Regions from separate parts of the Homo sapiens genome. Here region 2 is reported to be linked to region 1. Evidence: microRNA targets listed by miRTarBase, many of them from high-throughput screens and not tested one by one. Region 1 holds a microRNA gene; the other region holds the end of a gene's coding sequence.

What was found. The annotated mature microRNA hsa-miR-1271-3p reads AGUGCCUGCUAUGUGCCAGGCA and lies in region 1 at 1,755-1,776, opposite strand. An mRNA with a match to its seed (bases 2 to 7 or 8) in the 3' UTR can be bound and repressed. Matches are read on the target gene's strand: a 7mer-m8 pairs with bases 2 to 8, a 7mer-A1 pairs with bases 2 to 7 and ends in A, and an 8mer does both.
Region 2: the mRNA of NT5C2 is a reported target of hsa-miR-1271-3p. Seed matches in the 3' UTR shown: 7mer-m8 at 1,459-1,465.

Annotation. Positions count from the first base shown.
Region 1 is chr5:176,366,365-176,369,771 of GRCh38, reverse strand. It overlaps MIR1271 (microRNA 1271), which reads right to left and starts at 1,826; the gene lies at 1,741-1,826. It overlaps ARL10 (ARF like GTPase 10), which reads right to left. Exons shown (of 4, transcript NM_173664.6): 2 at 3,191-3,392; 3 at 790-965.
Region 2 is chr10:103,086,735-103,090,141 of GRCh38, reverse strand. It overlaps NT5C2 (5'-nucleotidase, cytosolic II), which reads left to right. Exons shown (of 19, transcript NM_001351169.2): 19 at 234-2,104. The coding sequence ends at 470. It overlaps CNNM2 (cyclin and CBS domain divalent metal cation transport mediator 2), which reads right to left. Exons shown (of 8, transcript NM_017649.5): 8 at 1-3,407. Among named protein-coding and RNA genes, the nearest start is that of NT5C2, 100 kb to the left of the region's middle.

The sequences.
Region 1 (3,407 bases):
GTTGCCCAGGCTGGTCTCGAACTCCTGGAATCAAATGATCCACCTTCCTTGGCCTCTCAAAGTGTTGGAGGTAGAGGTTTGAGCCACCACGCCTGGACCAATTCTATTACTCTCAAGATGTACAACCTTGGAAAGATTATAAGACTAGCCTGTCCCATCTATAAAATGGGAATAGCATCCCATACTTTATAGGGTCAACAGAAGCATAAGAAGAAATGTTATTCAAAACCACACCTGGGGGCCAGACACAGTGACTCATGCCTATAATTCCAGCACTTTGGGAAGCTGAGGCGGGCGGATCACTTGAGGTCAGGAGTTCAAGACCAGCCTGGCCAACATGGCAAAACTCCACCTCTACTAAAAATACAAAAATTGGCTGGGTGTGGTGGCACATACCTGTAATCCCAGCTACTCGGAAGGCTGAGGCACAAGAATTGCTTGAACCCGGGAGGTGGAGGTTGCAGTGAGCCGAGATCACACCACTGCATTCCAGCCTGGGCGACAGAACAAGACTCTGTCTCAAAAAAAAAACAAAAACAAAACACCATGCCTGGCATATAGGAGGCACTTAATAATTATTTTTCTCATCTCTCCAGAGTACGAGATGATAGGGAGGCAAAGAGGAAGGAAGACAGAGGCAGGGATCAGGACAGGGCATAGGTAGAAGAGGTGGGGGCAGCATCTCAGCCACCCTCTCCAGGCCATGGGCCCAGGCAGCGCTCCTTGCCCCTGCCCAAGCATCTCTGAGTGGATGTCACCTGGACCGAGCTGCCCTCTCACAGCCCTCACCTGCTTGTTGGCCACCACGACGACAGGCAGGTCAGGGTCCTTGTCCAGCAGCTTGTGCAGCTCCTGTCGGGCCCAGGGCAGCCGCAGTCGGTCAGCCGAGTCCACCACAAACACCAGCACATCCACCTCGCTCACAAACTCCTTCCAGTAGAAGCGCAGGTTCTGGCTGCCCCCAACTGAGGAGAGGCCAGGGGCCAGCTCAGAGCCTCCCGGGCCCCCGCTCACTGCCCACAGCCCCCACCCCACCCCGGGCCCCCGCTCACTGCCCACAGCCCCCACCCCACCCCGGGCCCCCGCTCACTGCCCACAGCCCCCACCCCACCCTGCTTCTAGCTTAGTGAGCTTCCACCAGCCGGGGGCAAGGAAAAGACCGCAGTTTCCGCAGCTACTCAGACTGGATTTAGCTCTAGCTCTGATAGGCGGGTCTCTTGGGGCAAGTCCCTAGCTTTAAGCACCAGTCTCCTCACTGAACTTTCCTAACGGGTTGTTGCAGTAAAACCCACAGGTACCACGTGCGATGTACCTTTCACGGGACTGACACACAGGTGCTCAGTAAATGGAAGTCTTCAGTTCTCTCCCCTGGGTTGTCTGGCTTTGCCTCTTGCTAATTCCTAGCTTTCTCCTACAGGTTCAAAACTGTCAGTGATGGCTGTGACAGGAGCCAGGAGTCCTATTGTCTAGAAAACTCAGGACCCCCTGCCCTGCCTATACACAGCCATTCTCCATTCAGTTTCCCCCATCCCCTTCTTTTCCCTTGGAAATGTCATATTTCATCCTATGAACACATGGTTGCCAACACAGTCCCCCAGCCTGGATCACCTTTCTTTTCCTCTCTGCTCCTCTGCACAGTCCCATTGGTCACCCCGCACCCTAGTGTTTCTGGCTATGTTTCTGACACTTGAGGATTCTAAGCTGTGAGAGTCAGAGGCACTTACCTCTGAATCCCCACAAAGCCCTCAGCACAATGCCTGGCACATAGCAGGCACTCAACAAATATTTACTGAGTGCTTGCTAGGTGCCAAGCACTGATCTGGGTGCTGCAGATACAGAGGTGAGCAAGGCAAGCAGGGGCCCTGCACCAAGGAGCTCCCTCCCTAACTGGGAAGGACATGGCAATGACATCAACACATTTCAAAAAGGAAAGAAATAAAACAGAAAAAAGGGAAAGTGGCTGAGGTGGAACAGGGGTTGGCCCTGGATTGGGTGGTCTGGGTAGGTCTCATCAAGGAAGTGGCATGTGAGCTGAGTGGGATGATGAGAAGGAGCCAGCCATGGGAAGAGGCAGAGGAAAGCATTCCAGACAGAGGGGAGAGCATGCTGGAAGTGTCTGGGAAACAGAAAGAAGGCTGGGGTGCTGAGGCACTGCAAGAAGGAGAAAGAGATGGCTGTGAGGCTGGCTGGGGCGGGCCACATGGGGCCAAAGACCACAGTGAGGGGGTGGGGAGCCCCCCAAGGGCTTTAAGCAAGAGTGACATTACCTGACATGGGTTTTCTCTAGCTGACACTAGGGACAGAAGGGGAAGCAGGAAGACCAAAGAGGAGGCTGTGGTGCTGAGAGGAAAGATGACACTAGTTTGGGCCAGACAGGCAATAGTGGAGGAGGGTGTGCCACTGCCCACTGCCATTCCAGCCTGGGCGACAGAGACCCTGTCTCCAAAAAAAAAAAACTAGAATGGTGGGGTGCGATGGCTTACGCCTGTAATCCCAGCACTTTGGGAGGTCGAAGCGGGCAGATCACTTGAGGTCAGGAGTTCAAGACTAGCCTGACCAATGTGGTGAAACCCCCGTCTCTACTAAAAATACAAAAATTAGCCGGGCGTGGTGGCGGGCGCCTGTAATCCCAGCTGCTCAGGAGGCTGAAGCTGGAGAATCGCTTGAACCCGGGAGGAGGAGGTTGCAGTGAGCCGAGACAGCGCCATTGCACTCCAGCCTGGGTGTCACAGTGAGACTCCATCTCAAAAAAAAAAAAAAAAAAAAAAAGACTAGAAAGGTGGGTGACCTTGGATTCATGATACTACTGCTGGAACTCATTTTCCTCTGGAGATAACGAGGGTAGTGACCGATTCTAGTTTTATGTAATTGTTTAGGGGAGTTTTCTTAAGCAATGCCCGTCAAGTGCTTGGCATATGAACCCTTAGCTGTTAGTATCTCTGTGTTAGGCCTATCGACTTTGGTAGGGGTGATGGGGCAGGCGGTGCAGCTGGAGAGGCCCGATCACGAAGGGCCCTAAATGTCAGAGCACAGAGCGTGGGCTGAATCCTGTGCCCCGGAGAGCGGTGGGAAGGATTCGTAGAGGGGAATGTGCTGCTTAGACATGCATTTTGGAAGCCCCCTTCCCTGCAGAGAATCCAGGACTGGTCCAGTAGAGGAGACGGGGAGATGGGGTAGGGTGTCCGCTCACTTTCTAGCAGGTCCACCTCAAAGTCCTTGGTGGGCAGACGCACGGAGTTGAAGCCCCAGGTGGGGATGTGGCCTTCCAGCGGTGGCTTCCCCGACAACACGCGCAGGAACGTGCTCTTGCCTGCGCCATCCAGCCCCAGCACCAGCACCTCGCGCTGTTCCAGCTCCTCCAGCGCCGGCTCCTCGTCCTCCTCGTCCTCGGGCTGCGGGGAAGCGGA
Region 2 (3,407 bases), not on the chromosome of region 1:
ATCTTTTCCAATTTCCAGCTGCAGTAGACAATATGGGCACCATTTTGAGGGGCAGGGAGAGAGGAAGACAGGCAACTATAAGTAGTTCTATGAAGATAAGTCTATATTGACTTGTCCTGTGGTCCATTATAGATGTAATTGCATGGCCACCTAACAGAGGAGAGGGGTTAGGATTTGGGGAGTAGCTACTTTGCTCTGCCTGCTTTCTGAGCCTCTAGCTTTTTTCTGTCTAGATGCCTCATGAATCAACGGTGGAGCACACACACGTAGATATCAATGAGATGGAGTCTCCTCTTGCCACCCGGAACCGCACATCAGTGGATTTCAAAGACACTGACTACAAGCGGCACCAGCTGACACGGTCAATTAGTGAGATTAAACCTCCCAACCTCTTCCCACTGGCCCCCCAGGAAATTACACACTGCCATGACGAAGATGATGATGAAGAGGAGGAGGAGGAGGAAGAATAAGGAGGAAAACCAAAACCCCAAGCACCCATTAAACAAGTCCTGGCAGGACTCACAGGAACAAACGAGGTCCCTGTTAGGGTTCTACTCGGGGGAGGGAGGGGGCTCCATGAAAGGTACGTCTGAAAAGTTTCTGAAGATTTTATTATCATAGATACTTGTTTTGGTTTTGTGTATCTGTACTCTCTGCAGATGGTCCAAAATTGTAATGGAGTCTGTATTAGAAGAAAATAAGGGTAAAATCAGGCTGAACTGCATGTATATGGCTCCACTGTGGCTTGTGACACTTTTAAAATCATCCGTATGTCAGTGTATCTGGATACACGAGGAAAAGGAAAGAGTCTCAGAGTGGAACAAAGAGTGGGAAGAGGTGATCTGTAATGTTACAAATTGTGCTATTACTCCAAGGTCCAACTTTTCCAGTGCATTACATGGTATTGTATATCAGTGGAGAAATGTATTATTTCCATGATCAAATGTAGTCTCTGTTAAGGTCAAGTTTTCTTTTATAAGCCTTTAATTCATCCTCAGTGACTCTGGCAAGGCTGCTTCTCTATCACTGGCTTTGCACAGAAGTATGCTCTACTTGCGTTGCTTTAGGGCAGGATTCTATTTTGAGGGAAAAGACAGTATCCTTATTACCTTTTGTTTGTTTAATAGCACAAATGCTTATTTGTTATCCAAAAACAACCTCCTTCTTATCTGTGATAAATCTATAGAAAGAATTTAGCTGCAAGTGGACAAAGGAACAAGCCCCCAGAAAAGAAAGGGAAGAACTGCCTTCTTATACTACAGAACATGCATTAGTGTGGGCTATATAGCTGTGGCTCATGCTACCCAATTCCAGATTTCTTTGTCCTCTAAGAGTTGATTGCTGTATATTAAAATTGAACATCAGAGGATGGGAAGAGGGCTCTGTAAGCCAGAACCTTACTAAAGTAGAGGGCACAATCAGTGTGAATAAATTCACTTCAGAATCTCAAGTCAAGGCCAGGCACGGCGGCTCACGCCTGTAATCCCAGCACTTTGGGAGGCCGAGACAGGCGGATCACCTGAGGTCGGGAGTTCGAGACCAGCCTTACCAACATGGAGAAACCCCATCTCTACTAAAAATACAAAATTACCTGGGCGTGGTGGTGCATGCCTGTAATCCCATCATCTACTCAGGAGGCTGAGGCAGGAGAATTGCTTGAACCCAGGAGGCGGAGGTTGCAGTGAGCCAGGATTGTGCCATTGCACTCCAGCCTGGGCAACAAGAACAAAACTCCATCTCAAAAAATAAAAATCCCAATCCCAAGTCGAAATCACCTCTTGTTTTAAACAAGAATGAATCATTACTGTGTATGTTAGGGTATTAAAACTGTTTCACCAGTACAGTGAAAGTTGTTTCAACATTTTAAACAAACAGTGGTTATAGACTCTTTCTTTAACCATTGTATATTTTCTTCCATTCTTGTCATTGGTCAATAGGGGAGGGTAGATTAGCTGCTCCAGAATTCAATAAAGTGTAATATTTCTAACGGTGACTTTGACCTATTCTGTAGTACAACTGTAATAGCTATTGGTCTTCAAGTGGGTTTAGATTTGGTGACATCAGTTTGATATTCTCTTAAAGGAAATAAATATTCAAGAACTGATTATGTTCTAACATGATTATATTCATGGTGTTACATAGGCCTCAATTTTTTCACAGAAAGATTTTTGGAACAGGACTGTGAAGTGAGGCTTTTTAAAAAATTATTTTATAAGCAGAGAACACAGCCTGATAACTTAGTCAAGGATATACTGTCTGTCTCACTACTTTGGACTTATATGGCTTCAGATTAAGTCATCCAAGAAACATACATACATTCTAAATGGTATATATTGGGAATATATGCCCCTTTAAAAGAATCAGGTCAGAAATGCAATAACAATTAGACTAGACTGTTGCCCGTGTTAGGAGAATGTGTGGTCATCCTAGTTACTAATTACTCTCACTCAAGATGGAGATGTTGTCCAGTTTAACATAGTCTTAAGTTTTCTTAAACCCAAATAATTTATGAGTAGCTTATTACATCTGCAGAGCTACCTTATTATAATAGTACATTTACATATTGTCTCTTTTAGAGTAAGGACCACATGATTGCTTTGCTTTAATTTACCACTTTTTGTATTGCATCCATATAAGAGTGTCTTACTAGCCAGATGATTCCATGGCAAATGATTCTCTGGGTCCAAAGATCGGAAAGTGAAAAGCACACAGCTGGAATAAGCAACAACTCCACTGCTAGTTACAGCTCTCCGTAGGACCACCAAAACGTATTCAAGAGCTCTAGGATTCCATAAGACCCAGAGCAAAATGGTGCCTCTCTGTATATTATTCTTAAGAGTGTGCTGGGAAGTCAATGGTCCATGGGTAGGCAGGGCAGCTGTAACTGGGCTTTTTAAAACAAATTATGAGTTTTCTCTCTGTTGCCAGTAGTTAAGGAAGCTGAACTTAAAAGGTATACTTTTTTCCTTAAAAAAAAAAAAAAAAAAAAAAAAAAAAAAAATCCTGCGGAGTTTTATACCGTGAGAAGACCATTCTGCCACTTCTTTTGAGAATTTTTTCCCAGGCATTTTGAAAACACTATAGGCATTGTAGAACACCAGGCAACCCCTTCTTGGTTGCTAGACTGAACTCCCAACCTTACAGCATGTACTGACAGGTCCCCTAGCCTCCCCAGCAGTTGGTCAGTGGTACAGCAGACCCAGGCCCTGCTGGGTTTCCTTGGGCAGAGGAATTGCCCAGTACATTCATTCATCTCTGCAAAGATAGATAGTCAGTGAAAACTCTGATGGTGTACTTCAGAAAAGTTGGTCACAGCCAAGAAAGTTTAGGGTTCTATTTAGACCTAAGATTTTTCTCTTGCCATAAGCATACCTCTGCTGAGACCTAAAATAATAACGCAAACCCTT